2 linked regions of the Homo sapiens genome follow. The protein of the gene in region 2 interacts with the protein of the main gene of each other region in a pairwise test. Each region holds a gene or a part of one and is shown on either strand. Other genes may lie near its edges.

Evidence for each region. Proteins that work in one complex are often made in the same cells at the same time.
Region 1: the proteins of STAT1 (region 2) and OTUD4 interact in binary tests that used the Homo sapiens proteins (3 or more experiments, as listed by UniProt).

The regions. Positions count from the first base shown.
Region 1 is NC_000004.12:145,170,058-145,178,046, forward strand, and holds part of OTUD4 (OTU domain-containing protein 4), read right to left. Parts: intron 4,688-7,989; coding exon 4,604-4,687; coding exon of another isoform or gene 4,583-4,603; intron 1,664-4,582; coding exon 1,613-1,663; intron 1-1,612.
Region 2 is NC_000002.12:190,975,911-190,983,899, forward strand, and holds part of STAT1 (signal transducer and activator of transcription 1-alpha/beta), read right to left. Parts: intron 7,831-7,989; coding exon 7,732-7,830; intron 6,609-7,731; coding exon 6,473-6,608; intron 4,760-6,472; coding exon 4,710-4,759; intron 3,957-4,709; coding exon 3,862-3,956; intron 3,092-3,861; coding exon 2,946-3,091; intron 1,116-2,945; coding exon 930-1,115; intron 2-929; coding exon of another isoform or gene 1-1. UniProt on the Homo sapiens protein: Signal transducer and transcription activator that mediates cellular responses to interferons (IFNs), cytokine KITLG/SCF and other cytokines and other growth factors.

The sequences.
Region 1 (7,989 bases), on a different chromosome or scaffold from region 2:
GGATAACCACTACTCTGACTTCCTGCCCCAAAAACCTTATATGGTTTCCCAATGCCTGATGCCTAGGCCCCAGGCCCAGAGGCCCTGATTCAGGTATGGAATAGGGGCCAGGGAATCTGCATTTTCACATGCACATCAAGTGATTTTGATACAGATAACCTACAGATCACACTTTGAGAAACACGGGTCTAAAGCATAAGCTCCAAACCACTGACCCTAACACTGAAGGCTCTCCCACAGTCTGGCCCCAACCTGCCTTCCAACTCCTTTCTCACCACTTCTTATCTTCACATACTCAATGCTCCACACAATTGGAACTGTTTTCTGAATCTGCTTTGCTCACAGTTTTCACTGCCTGGAATGCCCTTCAGCCCAGGCATTTCCTATTTAGAATCCATTCAGACTTCAAATACAACTCACTCTCCAAGTGTTGCTTTGTCTACCCAGCTAGAAATAACACTTTGAATGCCTACAGCATCACAGCTATATACCTCTTGTGACAAATCTCCTTTTCTAGCTTGTATTGACCTTCTTTCCTATGATAGGGAAACTTTTTTGTTATCTACATTATCTCTGCATCCCCAGGGTGACTAGGAATTCTTGGCCCATAACAAGCACTCAAATTAGTGTTAGGCAACCAAATGGATACATCAGTCATCGATCAAACACCCTTGGTTCCTACATTACATTCCCTTTACTCCTTAACTCTTCTTAGCTTTTTTCTTTGCCAATGTTATTTTTACCTTAACATTCTAAATGGCATTCCAAGATACTTGGATTTTTACAGTGAGAACGTTAGTTTTGTAAACAGAAAAATTAAGAAAAATCCTTTTAACATAAACATGACTGAAAAAGTATAGCAGCAGGAGTTGGTGAGTAAGTGCTATCCTTTTCTGTCTCAACAGTCTCTTCCCTCTTCACGAGATGATCATGGAAATAGGAACCTGCATGAAAGAACTCTGCCTTCTCAGTTGCCTAGGAAGAAAAACTCTGCAGGCCAGGTGTGGTGGCTCACACCTGTAATCCCAGCACTTTGGGAGGCTGAGGCAGGCGGATCACGAGGTCGAGAGATCGAGACCATCCTGGCCAATATGGTGAAACCCCATCTCTACTAAAAATAAAAAAATTAGCTGGACATGGTGGTGCACGCCTGTAGTCCCAGATACTCGGGAGACAAATCGCTTGAACTCGGGAGGCGGAGGCTGCAGTGAGCCGAGATCATGCCATGCACTCCAGCCTGGCAATGGAGTTAAATTCCACCTCAAAAAAAAAAAAAAAGAAATCAAACTTCACCCTGTCCAAGTTCCATACACACACCAACGTAGCATTCTGAAAATCATCACCCCAGTATTATTTCAGATTTTTATACTACATTTACATGCCATTATAGCCAAGATAAAATATCACAACTCTGCCTTAGTGAGGCAACCTCTAACATATAGCTCCAACTTAAGTGCTGCATAAAATGTGTAGGAAACGTTTATAAGGAAATAGGATACACCGTCACTGCAACTCCTCTATACACTGTAATAGTAATCTTCTATTTTAATGAATTTTAAATACATTATTTGGATATATAAAAATAGAAATATACTAGAAGACTGTGACATACCTGTGGATTTTCCAAACGCTTTAAATATTCTTCAAATGATCCTTCTATAAACTGCAAAAAATAAATCTATTAGAAATGTCATCTAACATATATGCCAAAACAGTTAACCGCTTCGCTGTGTAAACATTCACTGTGAATTACTGAGTTTGTACATAAACCTAAAATACCTCAGTATTATTTAAAAATATGTACATAATCTAATTATGAAAACATATAGCAATCATTAAAGACTATAAACATACAAAAGAATTTAAAGAAGGAAATTCTGTCAGGAAAGGTTTCCTGAAAGAAGAGTGACTCAAGATGAATGCTGGACAGGATCTGGATGGCAACAGGCAGCTGATACTCTACAGAGAGGGCCAATGTGGCGTGAGGAGGAAGAGGAACACTGTGTTGGGAAGACAAGCAATCTGGCCAGCTGGAGCAGGACAACCTGTTGTGGAACTGAGTGGGAGAAGAACCCAAAGGGGGGCCTGTTTACAGAGGGCCTTGAGCCCAGGCAGGACTTGAAGGCTAGATGAGAAAGGCCATTCAAGGCCACTTCAGGTGACATTCTGAACTGAGAAATTATATGATGAAAGCAGTGCTTTAACTTGGTAGTGACCAGTGTGTAGAAGGGAATAAAACAAAGACTGACTTACAAGCTAAGAAATAGTATAGCTTAATAATACAGATAAGAGTACTCATTGTCTCTCAAGTGATACTAGAAAGAGCGATGAGAACTAGTAAGGCGAAAAATATTTTGAAGCATCAACAAAATTTTTCTAATACAGCTTGCTTCATCGCTTCATTGTTACTTTGACATAAAAACAGTTTATTCAAGCTGTGTAATAACACAACCTTTTTTATGTTTCTTTAATAGCAATCGCACTCATTTGAGAAATCTCTAAAAGTCATTTGTTGAACCACCAAATTCAATTGCGTTTAAATTACAGTCCCAGTTGATTTAGCAGAGATATACTTAAAGACATTAAAGTATACTCCCTTGTCTATAAAATCTTTTAAGCACCCTTGGATTTTAAGATTGAGATTCTTTCATAGATTATATAATGTCAAATTGCCAAAAATATCTTAAATTTCGAAAGATATTTATAATAAAAGAGCCATATATATTAAAGAGCCCACCAATAAAGGGCTACTGTTCTGTATTAGATGATTATAGGTCTAAGGAAAAAAAAAACACAGAACCATTTAAAGTTACTAGAGACTGCAGAATTCTGACACAAGCCTGCATCCTCTCTGAGAGTCTCCTTTCTGAGCAGAAAGCGTCCACCTATGCCATGGCTGAACAATGTCAGTAACAAGGCATAATACTTTCTACAACATCTCTTTCCAATTCTGGACAACTGAAACTGCTTGAAGGTTCATAAAAGGAAAGTGAAACTTTTCCCCATGGAACTTTCAACCTCTGATCATACCTCATAAAATTATATGGACTAAGGCCAGGCACGGTGGCTCACGCCTGTAATCCCAGCACTTTGGGAGGCCGGGGCAGGCAGAGCATGAGGTCAGGAGATCGAGACCATCCTAGCTAACATGGTGAAACCCCATCTCTACTAAAAATACAAAAAATTAGCCTGGCGTGATGGTGCCAGGCACCTGTAGACCCAGCTACACTGGAGGCTGAGGCAGGAGAATGGCATGAACCCGGGAGGCGGAGCTTGCAGTGAGCCAAGATGGCGCCACTGCACTCCAGCCTGGGCGACAGAGCGAGACTCTGTCTCAAAAAAAAAAAATTATATGGACTAAAAAAAATATATGCAAAACACTTAATGCCTGGCATATAGTAAGCACCTCAACCAATGTTAGCAATGTCCATTATTATCAACACAGTTTTACCCTCTGGGGCCAATGATTAATAAGAATTAATTTAAAGACCATTCCACCTCCCCACTTCCCTTCTCTACCACACCTCTGCACTCTCTTATCTAGCCTCTGCGTTACCAGGTTTTTTTAATAAAACAAGGTTTCAAGCCTATCATTTGCAAAGTATTATATCAACATTCTCTACCAGTCAACTGGGGGAAATAACACCCAAAGTTGTCAGATTACATAATTCTAGGTCTTAAAACCAGTAAGTAATAAATCCTGTAAGACTTTGAATGTAAAATGAAAACAGGTCACTGTGGCATCTTATTTCACATACTACTGAGAAAATTATATTAAGCTGTTATACAACATTTTATTAACTATTAATCACTACTTACATAATTATAATGTTCTGACATGTGAGTTCACACTGAACCCTGAAAATTAAAAACCTATGAATGCCTTCTGATAAAATTAAGGGTTCAGCATTACTTACACTCAGCGTATTTTTTACACTGCAAGTCTGAATTTTTTTTTTTTTTTTTTTGAGACAGAGTCTCACTCTGTCACCCAGGCTGTGGTGCAGCGGCGCAACTCGGCTCACTGCAACCTCTGCCTCCTGGGTTCGAGCAATCCTCGTGCCTCAGACTCAAGAGTAGCTGGGACTCAGGCATGTGCCACCATGCCACTACTTTTAGTAGACACAGAGTTTTGCCATGTTGGCCAAGCTGGTCTTGAACTCTTCACCTCCCAAAGTACTGGGATTACAGGTGTGAGCCACCATGCCCAGACTGAATTTTTTTTCTTTTAATTTATAGGGAGTTACCCATCACAGAAACCACTATTAATCACAACACCCCCAATTCCCTGACCATGTCAGACAAAGCCCACTCTTAGTATGCAAGGGCCTTGTCCAGGTCATCTTTCCATCCCCCACAGCTCAGCGTCTTATCCATCATAGTAGCTTTCTAAATGTCCAAATAAATGCAAAACATAAAATAGCCTAGAAAACAACATAACTGAATATAACTAGATTAAGTTCAATAGAGAAGTTTTTTTAATAAGTGTTATTTTCATAACCCGCATTAAGATCCAGCCTGTGAAATTCTACTAGAACACTTCTAAAAGCCAAAATGTAAAACCAAGTCAAGACACCATTACATGTTTGAAATTACAAGTTACCGCTTCAAATTTCTCTCTGTTCTCTCGAAGATAGTGAATACAGGCCATTCTGACTTCAACATGGCGAGACTGAGAGTGCAATACCTAAAAAGAAAAGGCAACAAACACACTATTAAGCATTTAGTTAAAAGTTACAACCTAATGTCTTCTTTTACACCCAAAATAATCTGACAACCAATAGATTATCAGTCTTTCTCCATTTCCCTTTCTATAATTTCGATATCTTTACTCATTCCTACCTCTTCTTCTAACTAAGCACAGCGAAGACATGACATATACAAACAATACTACTTCTTAAGCCAAATTTGTAAAGAATTTATTAGCCTTTCTCCTTTAGGACATTTTTGTAAATTTAGGACACTCTCTTCCCTTGGCCTTCCCTCCACAATAACTTTACTCTTCACAAAGAAGAGCTAACAAAATCCATGCTACGCCACGCTCAACTTCATCCTATACATATTGAAAAAGACAAACTGGCAACTTCTGTAGGAATGTATTTTGAGGCTTTCAGCCTGTAAGAGGCCGATTTATTTTTCCCATTAATTCTGAATCCACTTAGAGGCTCTGTGTAAAAATTTAAGTCCACTATGGTTTCAGAAAAATTAAGGCACTCATTCTTTCCTTGGTGATCAAGCTTATAAGACAAGAAAGAACATCCAAGTAGGCAGCATAGGGGGTGCAAAAATGTTGTGTGGTATCATCCCAAGAGGTTTGGGGTTTGTTTTTATGCCCTAAATTGTAAAGTACCAACCTACAAAGTATGATCCAGATCCTCTCACTCTGCAGTTTACATTTTCTTCTATTAAACAACCAGTTCAACAAAAAGATAACTTACTGGCATGTGGTCTTTTACCAAAATTCTAAAGCTGTGAATTGAAACAACTATTTCTTTTTTTTTTTTTGAGACGGAGTCCTGCTCTGTCACCCAGGCTAGAGTGCAGTGGCGCAAGCTTGGCTCTCTGCAACCTTCACCTCCCAGGTTCAAGCGATCTTCCTGCCTCAGCCTCCTGAGTAGCTGGGATTACAGCCAACTACCACGGCGCTTGGCTAATTTTTGTATTTTTAGTAGAGACAGGGTTTCACCATCTTGGCCAGGCTGGTCTCAAACTCCTGACCTCGTGATCCGCCCACCTCGACCTCCCAATGTGCTGGGATTACAACAGGCATGAGCCACTGTGCCCAGCCTGAAACAACTATTTCTTATCCAATGCTTCCTTCTAGCTAGCTCCCAATTCTTTTTTCCCCCACCAGGCTGGAGTGCAGTGGTGCAATCTCAGCTCACCGCAACCTCCGCCTCACAAGTTCAAGCGATTCTCCTGCCTCAGCCTCCCGAGTAGCCGGATTACAGGAGCTGCCATGTCCGGCTAATTTTTCTTTCTTTCTTTTTTTTTTTTCCGGCTCATTTTTCTATTTTTAGTAGAGACAGGGTTTCACCATGTTGGGCAGGGTGGTCTCAAACTCCTGACCTCAGGTGATCTGCCCGCCTGGGCCTCTCAAAGTGCTGGGATTACAGACATGAGCCACCACGCCCGGCCCTAGCTCCCAATTATTTAACATGCTTAAAGGAGATTAAAATTCTTTTCTATTACTGGGTATCTCAAATAAAGATATTCCTGTACCGTAAAGGGTTATGGTTTAAAAAAAAAAAACTCAGACACACTTAAAGTAACACATTTCAAACTACCATCAAGGCCTCTTGAGAATTTATATTAATAGAAAGTATCTTTAAAAGTTACAGATCCTGGCCGGGCACTGTGGCTCACGCCTGTAATCCCAGCACTTTGGGAGGCCGAGGAGGGTGGGTCCCCTGAGGTCAGGAGTTTGAGACTAGCCTGGTCAACATGGTGAAAACCCCATCTCTACTAAAAAATACAAAAAAAAAAAAAAAATTAGCCAGGTGTGGTGGTGCGTGCCTGTAGTCCCAGCTACCTGGGAGGCTGAGGCAGGAGAATGGCTTGAAACCAGGAGGCAGAGGTTGCAGTGAGCCGAGATCGTGCCAGGGCACTCCAGCCTGAGTGACAGAGTAAGACTCTGTCTCAAAAAAAAAAAGTTACAGATCCAATTGAGTGGTTCTCCCTTTACGTTTAGCATGAGTAGAGCATTTGGGAAAAGGGAGGCTCCAGCTGTGCATTCTACAGCTCTCTTGGATCACAACCAAGGCTCATTTATACCCACAGAACCGGCACAACTGCCTGGACGCCTAGTATGTCCTATTACGCTGAGATACACTGAAAATGCACCTGTTGAGGTTAGCAATTAGTTTGTTTTCAGTGTAATAACTGGTTTTCAGTTTAACTGATTCTACCTTCACTGCTGTTCTTGGACACTATTAAACTATATTCTTATATATTCTAAGAGTATGTGACCAAAAAGGACTATCTATATATAAAAATAACCACCGTAGAATTTTTTTGCCAATTCAACAAATGACATTTAGCAACACTTCTTTCACAGAAGCTATGTTAGACACTATCATGAATCAAGGTATTACTCGTATGAATAAACCACAGTGTCATCTGATAGGGCTTTCCTCTGCCATTAGCAACGTGGAGCTAGTCTTAAAGCCATTTACCTAGCAACAGGTGGCAAACATAAGTTAGTAAAGCTTATTTTCAATCAAAAGCAATGGTAGGCATATCTACTGGTTCTTCTCTTTTAACAAAGATTTTGGCACATACAATCTATCTGAACCTGTTGCTCAGAAGCAAAACTCTTAGCAACTTCTATAAAGTGTGAGAGTGCTGGTAATTCACAAAGTCAAGCACTGCAAGAAAAGCAAGGTTAAATGACAACTGTCTAAAATGTAAATTATTGTGCAAGGTTGATAACACTTCGAAAGAATTAAAGTAGTATGACAAATATCTCTGCAAATTAATATATACATGAAAGCAAACTAGAAGGCTTTCCCATTTTTACTTGGGACAAGATAGTGATAAATACTGGGAAAGGCTGAGACACTGTTTTAGCAAGTCCTCCAAGACTGCCCTATTTTTAGCTCCATGGCTGTGGAGCTGATTCAGGTCAGGCCTCCGGCAGGCCCAAATCCGTAAGTGTAAAAAGGAAATGGCCTATCTAAATCAGATAATTTGGAGAGAAAGACCAAAATCCTAACTCGAGTCTCCTCCCCGTCTTTAAAAACTGCCACTTAGATTATTTACTTTGATTCCTTCTTAGAAATGATGAGTATTTGTGATTTTATAGGAGAAATTGTTGGCAAAAAATATAAATTATTGGTACACATTTTAAAAGGGAAGCCTGACGCTGGTATTACTTCCTTTTTCCCACACACACACACTTTGCCTTTGGCGATGATGGCTATAACTGTAGCCTACTGAATAACTGAACTTCCCCCAAAGTTCAAGGTCTTCAGCTAAGCTCATCAGACT
Region 2 (7,989 bases):
GCTTTCCATCAACCGAAATTCCATCAGAATACAACATCAACTTTTCGGGGGGATTAAAGTTCTACTGTGTTTCTAGACAGCTTAGCCTCCTAAAACTTTAAGGAGCTATAACCTCCCTGCCTGAGTCACCTAAAATTCTAGTGGGAATGCAGAAACAACGAGAAGAAGGATCTGAATTCAGTCTGGAAATAAGCTAGTGTTCAGCAGGACACTAGCTAGGAGCTTTCTCTTTACACAACTTGAAATCTTACAAGAAGTCTGAGCCCAAAATATGCAAAGTTCTATCCAGTTTATTGGCATTAGCCTGGCTAATGAATATTCACAGCTGTCAAGGTAAGCTGGGGACATCTTCATTCCAAAGTAATTGTCCTAATATTGAGATTTCTGATTCTGAAAAACAGCTTTGTTGGTGTGTTCCAAACAAAACAGGTCTAATTCGAACCTTCTCAAATGCAATTCATTGACAACTGAGAAGCAAGAGACCTGTGTTCTCAGATGAGGCCTCCTCTTAATAATTATCTAATAAAAATAGGATCTAGTAAGTAATTGGGCCACCCTAAATGAACCACTTCACTTCTCCCAGGCCTCAGTTTCCTCAACTTTAACGTGAGCAAGATGCCTTCTGTTGGTTTACCACAGTTCCTTATTTAAACCCTTTTCATGTGGAAACAGTGATAGTAACAAATACACAAGACCAGCAATGGACTTTTCCAACATTCCTAAAATAGGAAATTGTCCATTCATTTCTTACTAGCTGTATCAGGCCAAATAATGCATTATGTTTCACCTGCACTGAGTTTATGCCATCTTTTGAAAGCCTACTCTTACCAATTCGAAAGCAAAACACTGCATGGGTGGAGTTTCAGAATAATCACCCCCTCATCAGGAAAGACTGTGCCACGCTGTTACCACCTGCTTGCCCCACTTACCTTCCTTTGGCCTGGAGTAATACTTTCCAAAGGCATGGTCTTTGTCAATATTTGGATACAGATACTTCAGGGGATTCTCAGGAATATTCTCAGCAGCCATGACTTTGTAATTGCGAATGATGTCAGGGAAAGTAACAGCAGAAAGTTCTTTCTTCGTGTAGGGTTCAACCGCATGGAAGTCAGGTTCTAAAAAGGAGAAAAGCTAAGTAAATCCCATAGAACATCCCAAAATGAAAGAGGACAGAGAAATAAAACACTGCAGAGTTGATGGATTTGAGTGAACCTCATAAGAACTAATCACAATCTAAGCATTATAACATATACAGTAGACTGCTTTATTTCTAAATAAATTATAATACTGTCTCAGGGAAAATAAAGGGAGGTATTATTCTCAATAACATTCTATTTGCCATTATTTGCTTAGATTTATAAATCTGGGCAAAAAAGATTTATTAAAAACCTTTAAAAGCCTGCATCTTCAATGATGTGCTGCCCATAGGCACATAAATAACTTACTACTAAGTGGATCATCTTGGCTTAAGCCACAGATTTAAATTACTAGAGATAAACTCACTTTGTTTTTCTTTTCATATTGAAAAATCTAATTTTTTATTAAAATAAATTATGATATATAGAAAACAACATTTCAAATTAAAAATGATCCTATTTGCTACATTTCCCTGTAACCCTTAACGTAATAAACCATGGTTTAATTTACTCCCGTTCTTATTCCCAGACTGAATTCAGATCCTTCTTCCTAGCTGATACAGAATCTCCCTTTGGGTGTCGACCTTCCAGAGGCCACGGTTCAGGTGTTCTGGGGAGCCTGCTGTGGAACATGAGACTATGCTGCCATCCTAACCCTTCCTGGCTGGTAGTGTCCTGCTTGACCTTTCCTGGTTGCCAAGGGTTTTCTTCATCTCTGCTTGGTCTACTATATCTGTCTCTCAGCTGGTTCAGGAAGGGAACAGGATAAGAGGAAAAGGGCAGGTTCTAATGACTACTGCCCACGCCAGACTCTCATCTCAGCCTCCCTGCTTTTTCCTCAGAAGAAAAATAGAACAAGAAAAGTATTCCAGAAAAACAAATAGAACAAGAAGAGTATTCCTGAAAAATAAACAGAACAAGAAAGAATACCGTTCCAGAAAAAAAAAATAGAAGAGTATTCCAGAAAAACAAACAGAACAAGAAGAGTATGGCAGAAAAACAAATAGAATAAGAGTATTCCAGAAAAACAGGAGAAGAGGAATATTTCAGAAAAATAAATAGAACAAGAAGAGTATTCCATTTTGTGTCTACCCACTGAAAGTATAAAAATTACTAAAACAAATCAGTTTTTCCTCCTGCCCTTCAAACAGACCAAACTCTAAACAACAGTGAAAAGTAATCAGTTGGTCTTTATGATTTTTTCATTTACGCTGTTGAGCTTCACCCTCAGAAACCTGCTTCATAACACCAAGGTTTCTGGAGTCTTTTAGCCATGGACTCATTTGATTAAATAGAAACCCCATATATGATAAAGATAAATTTGCAGCTGCTCTGTTTGAAGGCAGGGTAGAGGCTGCCACTCGTCCCAACAGGTCCTGCATCAACTCCCTGGCTGATGATGTGTATGAAGTCTTCTCCCGAAGCCTGTCTCATCTGCACACTCTACTCTGGGATGACCCTAAGAGAATGTGGATGCTTACTCCTGTGGGAAATGTGATTCCTTCCAAGAACGGGTTGCAGATTACATTGACTCACATCCTTGATCTGCAGATAACAAACCTGATGCAAAGGAAAGAATTGGCATTGTCTTTTCAAAACCATCATTTCCACAATATGTTCCAGAGAGTGAACCACAACCACAAACATTTGTGGTGGTTTATTAAATCCTATCGGGGGCTCATTTGGGGTAAGTATAAGATCTGCAATTTCATGTCCCAAACGCACTATCTGTATGAGCTGACTGGCGGCGATGAAGAGGGACTTCACACACATGGAATGGTGGGACTATGTGCTCAAACTCCCACTCACCGCCTCCGTTCTGGGACCGCTCCACCCATGTGAATGTGATGGCCCCTTCCCGGGAGCTCTCACTGAACCGCAGCAGGAAGGTCCCCGGCTGCTGGTCCTTCAACAGGGCACGCTCTCGCTCCTTGCTGATGAAGCCCATGATGCACCTGGATATCGAAGAGATGGACGGATGGGCTTTTAGTTCAATCATGATTTCCATTTTCATGCTAACTTACAAACCAAGAAAATGGCTGGAATGTGAGAAAAAAAACCTACGGTAAAAAACGTAGACTATTTTAAAATCTGTTCAGTTGACACTTAAGGAAGCATTTCACTTATACATGTATATACTAAGGTTTTAAAAAAAGCGATATGAACATGGTGTCAGTAGGATGCTACAGATGCTCAATAACACGTGTGGGATTAATGAGCCTTTTATTGTTCCTTTATTATTTTAAAGGCCATAACAATGTCTGAATGTATACATCTTTTTTACTGGAGAGGAAGACCTAGGCAATATATTTTCATATTTTAGCCCTTCTGATCAAGTTAAAGCTTCTGTTGAAATATCAGCCGATCCTGGCAATAAGTCAAGATAGAAATGATTTACCCAGTTAAAAGGGTTTTTCTTCCTTCCTAGGGGCCACATAGTAGGTGCTCAAAAAATTTTTGTTGAGTGAATGAATGCATGAATGGCACTCAAGAGTTGTTTTTTTTTTTTAATTTAGCTTTGCCAATACATATACTTGTACTAAGAAAGTGTAAGGTTAATGTTATGAGGTTCTACTCTTCTGAAGCCCTGAAGGGGCAGCCTATAAATGCGCACTCCTGTGAGATTCACACACGCCTAGTCAAATACTGAAGCTGGACTCAGGCCTTGTCTCAACCTCGCAGCACTAAAAATATGTTTCAAAATACATCTATCGGTGGCCCTTACCCATCATTCCAGAGAGGGAGCAGGTGTTTTTTAATGAGTTCTAGGATGCTTTCAATCCAAAGCCAGAAGGGAAAATTTTTATCATTTATATTTTCCTGAAAGTATACAAATGCAGACATTATGAACAAAAATCTAAAACAATGACTTACCATGGCCCCTCCCACCATCATTTGCAAAGACTCCCCAGGTGCCAAGGATGGAACTGTCCCATTCAGCACAGCAATGGGATCCCTCCCCTGGCAGGGAATATCAAGTTCCCTCCCCGCTCTTATCAGCATTCAGACCAGGAGCTCTCCAGAGCTCTCCACTTCCCTGGGCCGGGCTCTGCTTCCCTTTCCAAACAGTAGCAAGCTAGCCTGGGGGTGACCTCCAGCGTGACTCACGGAAACACAAGCTGCCCCACACTAGCAAAATCCAGCAGTGCAAGCTGGTCCGCACTGTCTGGTGACTCCAGCAGAATCTAAATGTTCCCCGCAGTGGGCCCCTCTGCTCGAGCAGGCCGTTAAACTCGTCTGGCTGGTCAGGCTGCGCCACCCAGCCCACAACATACATTTCACACAGAAATGGCTAAAACACTGCTGGGCAGGGGTCCAGCGTGAGTGAACAGAAGCCTCATTTCAGATATGAAAGAATGTTATCACTCAGGCAGGTGCTTCCTGTCAGACTCCTGCTCGGAGACCAACCTCCTGCACTGAAGAAAAGTAAACAACTTGCCCGAGGGGCTCCTTGGCCAGAGAAGAACACGCCAAAATAAGCAAACAGTTAAGTAACTATCACAGCAAGAAACATGAGAACCTCAACCAAGAGCAAAAAGGACTTAGAGAGCATAAAACCCAGACAGTCCTCACCTTACAAAACCTCGTCCACGGAATGAGACCATCGGGGCTGGCGTTAGGACCTAAACAAATAAAAACCAGATTTTTCAGCAAACAGAAACTGATTCTAAAGCTTTGGTTGGACGGATGGCTCTTGTATTTGCTCTCAAGGAAAAGAGCCAAACACCCAACAAAGATTGTATGTACACAGTTGACATTTTCGGATACCTTAATGCCAAATTAACTGAGCAATTATAATACGTGCTGTAAGAGGGCGGAATTTAAATGGTCTAAAATATGTATATGTTGGTTTGAGTTTAATGGCAGAAAGGAATGGATGGCAGATTCCTGGGCACCACGATATGAGAGTTTTTAGGGAAAGCGGAAACATCACAAAGCCTTACCATCTGCTCTCTCCCTCCCCAGCCCCCCTTTTCCCTCCCTCCTCTAAAGAGAGGACAGTCCTTTTAATGCCTCTTCATGTTACACTTCCTTCCAAGACCATCAGCTGACTTTGCCTTTTGCACTAAATCAAAGGTGTTCTGCTGGGCCTCCTAGAGAAGCCTCCCTATCCAGTGCCTCTTCCCACTGCCTTCCTCTGCTGCTCAGCAGAGCCCCCTCTCCCAAGGATCCTACAGAATTTTTTTCAAAGTTCAACCTAGGTGCCCAAGATCACCCCTAGATCTTCAATGTAACTGATACTTGACTTTACAAGTTTATTTTAGACATTATTTATGCATTTCCCTCAGCTTTCCTCCAAATAGGACATGGGCTCAGGCAGTCTGATGCAAATCAAAAACCAAGTGAGAGAAACGAGAGGAAGAAGCCCGGGGTTATTAGCTACACAAATTAAAGCAGCCTGGGCGAGAAGAGGCGGTAAGCCCATTATCGGTCTTCAAAGAGAACTACAAATGAGCCATTACAGCTAGAAAAGATATCCTTCTTAACTCTCACCAAATAAAGAAATGGAATAAGGGGATTTTGTACTTGTATTAAACAGCACAAGACCACCACTGTGACAGCTGCATATCCAAGAGAAGAAGGCACTGTTGAAAGTCACTGAGTTAGGAAGAGCCTACTGCTGTTTGGAGTAAATGCAGTGCTGCTCTACAGAAAGCAAATCTGGATACAAGTTGTCCACGGATTTTTAAAGAAATAGTTCAGATAGCCTCACTCACTGAAAGATCTGACCTTGAGACTAGTGGATCTTTGATTTGTTTAGTATGAAGGACTAATAAATGCACTGACATTAACCACTGAAAGGGAATTATCTACCACTGTCTAGACTCTGTCCAATCAGGCAAAACTGCAGATCAAAAGAGGCATCCTCTTGTGGGGACGGCATCCTCTGCTACCTGGGCCCCACCTGAGGCAAGGGCCCTGGGTTTATGCTGCAGTGGGCAAGCCCCAGGACTTTATTTCTCATCATGTCAGGGACTTCCTTTTTTCTCCCCAAGGTTAATGGTTAATAGGCCTTCATCTTTCTCATCCAGGAACTTATTTCAGCCACAAATAATATATTTTACATAATTCATAAAACTTTCCCTTGGGAATTCATCTCAGAAATCTTAATATGAGACAATGAGGAACGGATTCATTTAAATGTTATCAGGTCTATATTTCTTTCTAAGGTGACATATGATTCTCACTTAGCTATAATAAACTATAGCTTGAAAAGCTGACAGATTTTAGTACTTTTTTACCTTTAACAAAATAGCAGAGGGGAAAAGAGCAATTAGAGAGATATTTTTATGAATTTCAATTTTTATAAACATAACAAGTTAATATGCATATACCAAGAAGCTTCTCTCCCAACATGTTCAGCTGGTCCACATTGAGACCTCTTTTGGTGACAGAAGAAAACTGCCAACTCAGCACTTCTGAAAGCTGAGCCCATCGTGCACATGGTGGAGTCAGGAAGAAGGACAGATTCTAGAGAGAAAACACCCAAAATCTAAGGGTTACTACAGAGACACCAGTCACAAGTGTGGCACTAAAACATATGTCCATCCCAAAGTTCAATTCTAGTTTATATGACACACAGGTGCTTTCACAGTAGGGGAAGAGAAATACAGTCAATTTTCATTATTTACAGATGCACATTTGTGAACTTGTTTACTCACTAAAATTTACTTGTAACTCCAAAATCTAAATACATGGCATCTTTGGGGTCATTTGAAGACACACCCGTGCACACACAGCAGCACACAGCAGCAAAGAATTCGAGTCTCTTAACACGCTTCCAACTGAAGCCAAACAAAATGACACTCGCTTCCTGTTTCACCTCTCATAAGAAAAACGTGTCCTTTTTGAAGCCTATTTAGCGCCATGTTTTTTGCATTTTGTGACTGCTGTTGGTGATCCCTGTTTAAAATGGTGCCCGAGCATAGTACCACAGTGTGGTCTACTGTTCCTAAGCATGGGAAGGCTGGGATGTGCCTTATGGAGAAAATACATGTGTGAGGCAAGCTTCACTCAGGCATGAGTTACAGTGATCCTAGCTATAGGTGTAATGTTAATGCCTCAACAAGTGTATTAGATAAGGTGTCTTTAAACAGAAACACACATAAACAATGTTATGCATTGATGGGTTGACAAAAATGTTGTGACCAGAGGCTTGAAGGAACCTAGCCTCGTAGTTCCCTTAGGAGCAACAATTCATTATTTGCTAGTTAAGTGTTCCTGGTGACTTTAAAAAACATAAGTACTTTGAATAATTATAAATGACTGTAATTAATTAACAGTGAGTATCCACACTCTAAGAATGGAGCATGCTTGTTTAGTAGATGTATACATTTTAAAAATAATAACAATAAAGTGGTATGGAATCACTGACTGCCCTAGCTTACCCACATGGGAGAAAAAACGTAATTCTCATTTCAAATACATATCCATGCTTCATATTCCCAGATTTACTCAAAAGCCTTAGAAATACCACAGGAGCTTTGTCACTTCTCCCTTAACAACTGGCCATTGGGGCTATTTCAGAGATGCAGCAGTGAGAGCGTGGGGTCTCTGCTTAACCCTGGGACCAAAGCAAATGTGTTTTCCATACCCTGGGTTCCGCCACCAGCATGTTGTACCAAAGGATGGAGGCCCAACCGCTCGGGAGCTGGCTGACGTTGGAGATCACCACAACGGGCAGAGAGGTCGTCTAAAGGATGACAAAGACCTTGAAATCATCTGAATCACAGAAATGTCACCTTCAGATAACTGCTTAGCCTCAACTAAAAGCAGGGGATTATTTGTAAATTTGTACATATTTAATACTTGAAAATGAGAAGTGTTAAGTTCTGTTCTTCTGTCCAGTTTA